Linked DNA regions of Homo sapiens: region 1 is linked to region 2. The links come from fine-mapping of genetic effects on gene expression. A gene starts in region 2. The other region holds a variant in brackets. All regions are shown on one strand. Distances are between the middles of the regions.

What was found. PIP is the estimated chance that this variant, and not a neighbour inherited with it, causes the effect. A credible set is the group of variants that fine-mapping cannot tell apart.
Region 1: its variant is the best candidate, but not a certain one, in a credible set for the expression of AP2S1 in monocytes after interferon gamma (Fairfax 2014, PIP 0.63).

Annotation. Positions count from the first base shown.
Region 1 is chr19:46,936,941-46,941,328 of GRCh38, forward strand. ARHGAP35 (Rho GTPase activating protein 35) reads left to right here. Exons shown (of 7, transcript NM_004491.5): 3 at 324-468. Among named protein-coding and RNA genes, the nearest start is that of ARHGAP35, 78 kb to the left of the region's middle. The variant CATTTATTT/C (reference allele first, on the strand shown) is at 2,432.
Region 2 is chr19:46,848,950-46,853,337 of GRCh38, forward strand. AP2S1 (adaptor related protein complex 2 subunit sigma 1) reads right to left here and starts at 1,897. Exons shown (of 5, transcript NM_004069.6): 1 at 1,815-1,897. The coding sequence starts at 1,817. RefSeq lists an enhancer at 1,912-2,221.

The sequences.
Region 1 (4,388 bases), 88 kb after region 2:
GCAATTCTCCTGCCTCAGCCTCCCAAGTAGCTGGGATTACAGGCGCCCACCACTACGCCTGGCTAATTTTTGTGTTTTTAGTAGAGACACGGTTTCACCATGTTGGCCAAGCTGGTCTCAAACTCCTGACCTGAGGTGATCCACCCGCCTCGGCCTCCCAAAGTGCTGGGAATACAGGCATGAGTCACCGTATCCAGCCACTTCTTGACATTCTTTCTAGCAGTTTTTATACCACTGCTTCCCTTCTGGAAGCCTTACTGATGTTTAAGTTACATGTTGATACTCACTTTGTTTTTGTGCTTCCCTTTCTCTTTCCTGGACAGAAACCAAAGCCCAAACCCCGGCCATCCATCACAAAGGCAACCTGGGAGAGTAACTATTTTGGGGTGCCCTTAACAACTGTCGTGACTCCAGAGAAGCCGATCCCCATTTTTATTGAAAGATGTATTGAGTACATTGAAGCCACAGGTAAGAGTATTACCTCATAGCAGTTTATAACTTTCACTGTCTACAGGATGCTTACTGGAGGGTCAAGCCATCTGGAGATTCTGGAATCAGTTGTTGTTGATTGTGAGATGCTCTTGGAGAAGGAGCTGAGCAGTCCCAACAGTTGTCAGATGTGTAGATTCTCCATTTGTGTGCAGTTTTGAGGCTGTCGTTGGGCATTTATTAGGCCTTGGCCTACGAAGGAGCTGTTCTGTGCTCAAGGTGGCAGCTATGGCTGCTTGGGCGCTTTCTCTGTGCTACCTCACCCACCAGAGCATCAGCACTCTGTCAGTTGCCTGCCCGCCTGTGTTCCCTGCAGATCTGTGAACTCCTTGAGGGTTGTGCTATCATTGTGTCCTCAGTACTATAGTGGATACATAATACATTTTGGTTTAGTAAAATTAATACAGCCCTCAGCATTGTTCGGATGCCTGAGACCCATGTATTGATAGGATTTTTTTCTGAGGTAAGAAAATGATTAGGATGTTTGGGATATCTTCTGGTTATGCCGCTCCTCTGACAACTTGATGCTATCACAAAGGTAGACTGTCTTGGGAAATTTTTTTGCATTGTTCTTGAAATAATTAAGTTTTACTTGTGTTGAAACCATTTGCTTTATTCATTTGAGCTCTCATGTGTCCCTTTGGCCTTCCAGTTTCACTAAGGTGGGTTCTTGAGCATTCGGAGTTGGGCTCAGGAACACAGGCTTAAACTAATTTGAAACTAAGGTAGGGATTACAGCCTTCCAATCTGTTCTTTCTAACTCTGATATTATCTACAGTGGTATTAAGTATTGTGTGGTGTGGACAGCCTACTAGGCTCTGCTGATAATTTCAGCAGCATCGTGTGAAGCTGAGTGACAGTGTTCATATTTACTTAGGATGTTGTAAAGCAGGGAAGATGGCTTTATTTATTATTTTATTTTTATTTTTATTTTTATTTTTTGAAATAGAGTCTCACTCTGTTGCCCAGGCTGGAGTGCAGTGACACGATCTCAACTCACTGCAACCTCCGCCTCCCAGGTTCAAGCGATTCTCCTGCTTCAGCCTCTGAGTAGCTGGGATTACAGGCGCCCGCCATGACGCCCAACTAATTTTTGTATTTTTAGTAGAGACGGGTTTTTGCCATGTTGGCCAGGCTGTTCTTGAACTCCTGACCTCAGGTGATCTGCCCGCCTCGGCCTCCCAAAGTGCTGGGATTACAGGCATGAGTTACGGTGCCCAGCCGAAGATAGCATTTTTTTTTTTTTTGAGATGGAGTCTCTCTCTGTTGCCAAGCTGGAGTGCAGTGGCATGATCTTGGCTCACTGCAACCTCTGCCTCCCAGGTTCAAGTGATTCTCCTGCCTCAGCCTCCTGAGTAGCTGGGATTACAGGTGCACACCACCATGCCCGGCTAATTTTTGTATTTTTAATAGAGATAGGGTTTCACCACATTGGTCAGGCTGTCTCAAACTCCTGACCTCGTGATCCGCCCACCTCAGCCTGCCAAAGTGCTGGGATTACAGGCATGAGCCACTGCGCCTGGCCTGAAGATAGTTTTTAAGTTGGAGCCCACCAAAGACTTTGTATTTATTTCCTAGGTTTTCTGTGGAAACCAGAGAAATAATTCCCCCCAGGCTTGAATCTCAGTAATAAGCACTTGGCATAATCATTACAGATCTATAGCTTTGTTTAGTCCATTCTGTACCCAAAGCGGTTTCTCATTGTCCATCTTTTTTTTTTCCTGCTGTAGACACAGGGGTCTCACTTATTGCCCAGGCTAGTCTCACAATCCTAGCTTCAAATGATCCTCCTACCTTGGCCTCCTAAAGTCCTGGGATTACAGGCGTGAGCTACCATGCCTGGCTTCAGTGTCCATCTTTTTGACACTCGTTTTATATTAATTTCCTCCTTTATCTGTCTCTATAAAATGTTTGAAAGTTGCAGGTGTGATATGCACCTTTA[CATTTATTT/C]ATTTATTTATTTATTTATTTATTTATTTATTTATTATTTAATTTTTTTAGATGGAGTCTAACTCTGTCACCCAGGCTGGAGTGCAGTGGCACGATCTAGACTCACTGCAACCTCTGCCTCCTGGGTTCAAGCAATCCTCCCACCTCAGGCTCCTGAGTAGCTAGGATTACCGGCATGCACCACCACACCTGGCTAATTTTTTTTGTATTTTTAGTAGAGATGGAGTTTCACCATGTTGGCCAGGCTCGTCTCAAACTCCTGACCTCAAGCAATCCACCCGCCTTGGCCTCCCAAAGTGCTGGGATTACAGGCGTGAGCCACCATGCCCGGCCTGCACCTTTACTTTTAAATACTTCAGTGGGTATTTCCCAAAAACATTCTCTTATAGAACCACTGTGCATTTATCAAAATTAGGAAATCAACATTGATCTAGTACTAATCTGTCTGTAATCTAATCTATAGACATTCTCATTTCATCAGTTTTCCCACTACCTTCCTTTATAGCAACAGACAAAACACTGTTTTGGTCCAGGACCTTATCCTGGACCACACGTTACATTTAGTGGTCAAATCTGGCCCAGCACAGTGGCTCACGACTGTAGTCCCAGCACTTTGGGAGGCCGAGGCAAGCAGATCATGAGGTCAAGAGATCGAGACCATCCTGGCCAACATGGTGAAACCCCGTCTCTACTAAAAATACAAAAAATTAGGCCGGGGCGGTGGCTCACGCTTGTAGTTCCAGTACTTTGAGAGGCTGAGGCGGAAGATCAGGAATTCGATACCAGCCTGACCAACATGGAGAAACCCAGTCTCTACTAAAAATATAAAATTAGCCAGGCTTGGTGGTGCATGCCTGTAATCCTAGCTAGTCGGGAGGCTGAAGCAGGAGAATCGCTTGAACCTGGGAGGCGGAGGTTGCGGTGAGCCAAGATCGCACCATTGCACTCCAGCCTGGCCAACAAGAGCAAAACTGTGTCTCAAAAAAAAAAAAAAAAAAATTAGCTGGGCATGGTGGCACGCACCTGTAGTCCCAGCTACTCGGGAAGCTGAGGCAGGAGAATCGTTTGAACCCAGAAGGCAGTGGTTGGAATGAGCCGAGATCACGCCACTGCACTCCAGCCTGGCGACAGAGCTAGACTCCATCTCAAAAACCAAAAAACCAAAAAAATAAAATCACCAATCAGTTATTTTGTAGGGTGTTCCTCAGCTTAGCTTTGTTTTCCCTTTTTTTTTTTTTTTTAATTTTTTGTATTTTTGGTAGAGATGGGGTTTCTGTGTTTCCCAGGCTGGTCTCAAACTCCTGAGCTCAAGCTATCCACAAGCCTCGACCTCCCAAAGTGCTGGCATTACAGGCGTGAGCCACTGTGCCCGGCCTTGGCTTTGTTTTAGTTTTTTGGATATTTCATCGTGATCAAGTTCTGGGTTTGCACTTCTGGCAGATACCACAGGGCAGCAATGCCTTTGCTCTGTCCCCTCCACTTCATCTCTGCTGCCCACCATCACCCACCTTCTCAGTCCAGTCTATGGGTATGACAGTTTATCTGCTGAAAACCCATCCTTGCTTCTTTGTTGCCTACCAGATGCAGGTCGCACTCATAATCCTCCTTCCCGGACTCAGGAACAGCAAGACTGTTACTATGCCATTGTCCCCTGCCCTCCTTCCCACCCTCCTTTTTTTTCCCTCTCCCACTCCCTTCTTTCACCCCTTTCTTTCTGTTTTATGCTGCTTCAAGTATTAATTTTAAAATTGTTCTACAAGAATGCGATTTATCAGAAGGATGTGAACCAAGCAGAATTTCTTAGTATTTCTTTGCCTTAGGGCATTCCCCTTGTGTGGTTTAAAATTTGTCCCCCATTCCTTTTTGCCTGTGGAACTTATCCTTATTCTTCAAGAGACTCCTACTCCTAATAGCACTTTGAATTTAACCTCCCTGGTAGTTCTTCTCAG
Region 2 (4,388 bases):
ATCTGCCTGCCTCAGCCTCCCAAAGTGCTGGGGTTACAGGCGCGAGTCACTGTGCCCAGCCTTTTTTTTTTTTTTTTTTTTGAGACAGAGTCTCACTCTGTCGCCTAGGCCAGTGGCACAATCTCGGCTCACTGCAGCCTCTGCCTCCCGGGTTCAAGCGATTCTCCTGCCTCAGCCTCCCAAGTAGCTGGGATTACAGGCATCCACCACCACACCTGGCTTATTTTTGTATTTTTAGTAGAGACGGGGTCTCACCACGTTGGCCAGGCTGGTCTCGAACTCCTGACCTTATGTGATCCGCCTGCCTCAGCCTCCCAAAGTGCTGGGATTACAGGCATGAGTCACCGCCCCAGCCTGAGAGTCTTTCCTAAGCCTCATTCTCCACACACTCTATCCTCCCTCCCCCAACCAACCAAACTGGACCGGAACAGGATGTTACACTCTCCTTCCAAGAACTCCTGCTGAGCCAGGGAAAACCACTTCCTAGCAGGGCAGGGGTCCCAGGCAGGAAGGGACGTTGGGGGGCCTACACCAGGCAGCCACAGCCTGGGAGCAGAGCCGGAGACATATTCACACAGTTAGGAGAACTAGAAGCAAACCCACAGAGTTGACAAAAAGCTCTGCCTCTTACTCCCAAATTCCCTTGTATACCTCTCCCTGTTTTCTTCCCATTTGGAATCTCAAGTCCCCTCCGTCCTGAATCTCTGCATCCTCACGCCTCTGCTGTCCCCTCTAGATGCCCCCCAACCTTCCCTGTCTCCAATCCCCCTCCTCTGGAGTTGTTCCCTTTTGACCTCCACTTTCTCAGTCTCAGTTCCCCTCCTTGGGGCCTCAATGGGCTTTTTACTGGTGACATCCCTTGTCCCACTCCCAAGCTTCCTCCCTTCTTCAAAAGGTCACATTTTGCCTCCAAGGACCCTGTTCCTGGAGGAGACTCCGCCCCCGCTCTGACACTCTTTCTCATTCGTTTTCTTTCCCAACTTCCAGCCCAAAGAACCCTTTCCTAGATCCAAAGCCCCAACCTGGGGGATAGGGGCACTCCTAAATCCAATGTTGAGTCTTTGCCCCAACAAAGATTCCTCCCCAGGTCTCACACTTTCAAGCCTACTCCCCACCCCACAAGATCTCTCCTCTTGGAAAGACCTATTCAGTTGCTCCCCATTCTTTCCGAGTGTCCATCTTACCTCCAGGTCCTCTCTCCTTTTACAGCGCTTTCCCAGACCCTTAAGTTTCATTCCCTACAGTTGCCTCCTTTTGGTTTCCTGTGCCAGGTCTCTTCTTGAGATCATCCCTCTCTCACAGGCAGTCTCCTGCCCCTGTCTCAACATCCCCTCTCCACCTGCAATCAGATCCTTGTCTCTAGAGACTCCTCCCATCAAGAAAACCTCCCTCCCCTTTTCCAAGGTCTCGCGTTCTCGTCCCAGCGCTCCCGCCACACTTCCAGAGCGCCTTCCTCTTTCGGACGCCCTCTCCCCACCTCCAATGCCTTCTCGCTACCCACAAGACTGTGTCTCACGAGTTTCCTCTCGTTTCAAAGCTTCCAACCATCTACAACGTTTCCCACCTGCACAGCCCTTTCCCCTTGGAACACCACCCCCAATGCCCGTCGCCGCGAGACCCCTGGTAACCCCCGCGCGCAGAATCACCGCCCTGTGCCCTCCTTCCCGGCCCTGGATCGGTCCCAATCCCCAGAGCCCGCGCCTGACCCAGACCATCCGCGGCAGAGAAGGGACTTGTCAGCGCCCGATCCAGCCTCGGCTATTTACGCGTGGGCCCCCCCTCCGCCAGTCCCCGGCGTAGCGCTCCCCCGTTACCATGGCGACCCCCGTCCAGACCCCAGCGGCCCCGGTCCCGCGGCGACTGGGCAGCTCCGGCTCAGGGTGCAGTTGTAGGGCCCAGAGCTAGAGCGGACTTCCGGTAGAAAAACCCGCCTGCCTTCTCGCGCACAGACCCCTGGGAGTTGTAGTTTCACCAAAGGGGCCAGCCTGGGTGAAGATGGGTGAAGAGTCAGAGCCAGTCCTTTTCCTACCAAACGAGTCAGATCCCAAGTGCATGCTGGGATTTGTGGACAAACATCTTTACAGAGGACTACAATTCCCGAGATGCTGAAGAACCAGCGGTGAAGGCGTTGCATTCAGGGAAATGTAGTTCTCTTAGGTCCCCTCCCCCCACCCAGGGGAGAAGGGCATGCTGGGAATAGTAGTTTTAAATTTTAAAAAACTGTCCTGGGGAGATAGAAAATGTCTTTCCATTCCTCATCCAGTGATTTCTTTAATTTTTTTAAAAATAGAGACAGGGGTCTAGATATATTGCCTAGGTTGATCTCGAACTCAGCTTCAAGCGACCCTCAGCCTTCCAAATCACCAGGATTACAGGCATGAGCCACCACAACACCAAGCCAGTGTTTTGCTTAAAATACGTTGCGTGTGTCTCTCGGGAGACAACAGTTTAAAAGCATAAATTTGAACCGGCCCGGCGCGGTGGCTTACTCCTGTAATCCCAGCACTTTGGGAGTCCGAGGCAGGCAGATCACTTGGTTAGGAGTTCGAGACCAGCCTAGCCAGCATGGCGAAACCCCATCTCTACTAAAAATACAAAAAATTAGCCAGGCATGGTGGTGCGCACCTGTAGTCCCAGCTACTCGGGAGGCTGAGGCAGGAGAATCACTTGAAGCCCGGAGGCAGAGGTTGCAGTGAGCCCAGATCTCGCCACTGCACTCCAGCCTGGGCAATAGAGAGAGACTCCAAAAAAAAAAAAAAATCTCTAGTTTGGCGGGGGCATGATGGCCCATGCTTGTAATCCCAGCACTTTGAGAAGCTGAGGTGGGTGGATCACCTAAGGTCAGGACTTCGAGACCAGCATGGCCAACACGGTGAAACCATTTCTACTAAAAATATAAAAATTAGCTGGGTGTGATGGCAGGTGCCTGTAATCCCAGCAACTCGGGAAGCTGAGGCAGGAGAATTGCTTGAACCTGGGAGGCAGAGGTTGCAGTGAGCCGAGATCACACCATTGCACCCTAGCTGGAATGACAAGAGCGAAACTCTGTCAAAAAAAAAAAAAACCCTCCAGGTCAGCAGTTAGTTTAGTGTTTTTTTGGTGTGTCTTTGTTTTTGCTTTTTTCTGAAAGAGGGTCTCCCTTGGTCACCCAGGCTGTAGCGCAGTGGCATGATCTCAGCTCACTGAAGCCTCAACCTGCTGGGCTCAAGTGATCCTCCCACTTCAGCCTCCCGAGTAGCTGAGACTACATACACATGCCGTCACACCTGGCTAATTTTTTGTACTTTTTGTAGAGACAGGGTCTTGCTATGTTGCCTAGGCTGCTCTTGAACTCCTGAGCTCAAGCGATCCTCCCTCCTCCACCTCCCAAAGTATTGAGATTACAGGCGTGATTTTTTAAATGGCCTTTATTACATTTTAAAAATTATTTTATTTGCCCTATGAGTATGTGTGTATGTTTGTCTAGATCTCTCATTAGGTAGTGAGTTGTTGAGGGCAGGGACCCTGTCTGATAACTGTATCTTCATTACCTAGAACATGACAGATGGTAAGCAGTCAATAAAGTTATTACTATTAGTACTGAGGGGAGATTGGCCCTAATAAGAACAAAGCATGCCAGGCATGGTGGCTCACTCCAGTAATCTCAGCACTTTGGAATGCCAAGGCAGGCAGATCACCTGAGGTCAGGAGTTCGAGACCAGCCTGCCCAACGTGGCGAAACAGCACCTCTAATAAAAATACAAAAATTGGCCGGGCTTGGTAGCACTTGCCTGTAATACCAGCTACTTGGGAGGCTGAGGCAGGAGAAGCACTTGAACCCTGGAGATGGAGGTTGCAGTGAGCCGAGATCGTGCCACTGCACTCCAGCCTGGGGGACAGAGAGAGAGAGAGACTCCATTTCAAAGAAATAATAATAATAAATTAAATAAATAAAACAAAATGTATTGTAGAATTATGTAAATTTAAGGTATAGTACTGGCAGAATAACCAACACATAGTTGTTGAATATTATAGGGGCAAAAAGAGGCCAGAGATCATTTCTGTCTTGTGTACTTTTCTGTCTCCAACAGGGTTGATACTAGGATGACACAAGCAAAGTGTCCAGGTTGCAAAATTTTAAAAGGACCTCACTCTTAGATGCCAATTCCTGTCTTACACAGGACTGAGAATATGTGCCTCATTAAATTTTGTGCCCTCAACACGTCACTTGCCTCCCCTTAGTCCCAGTCCTGATCTCCAGTGTTCAACTTAATACTTGGCACAACTCTGGTGTTCAATAAACATTTGCTGAATGAATGAATGCATTTGCAGCAAGAAAACAGACACTGCCCCCACCCTCACAGCATTCACAGTCTAGCAGGAAAAATGGACTTAAATGACATAACATA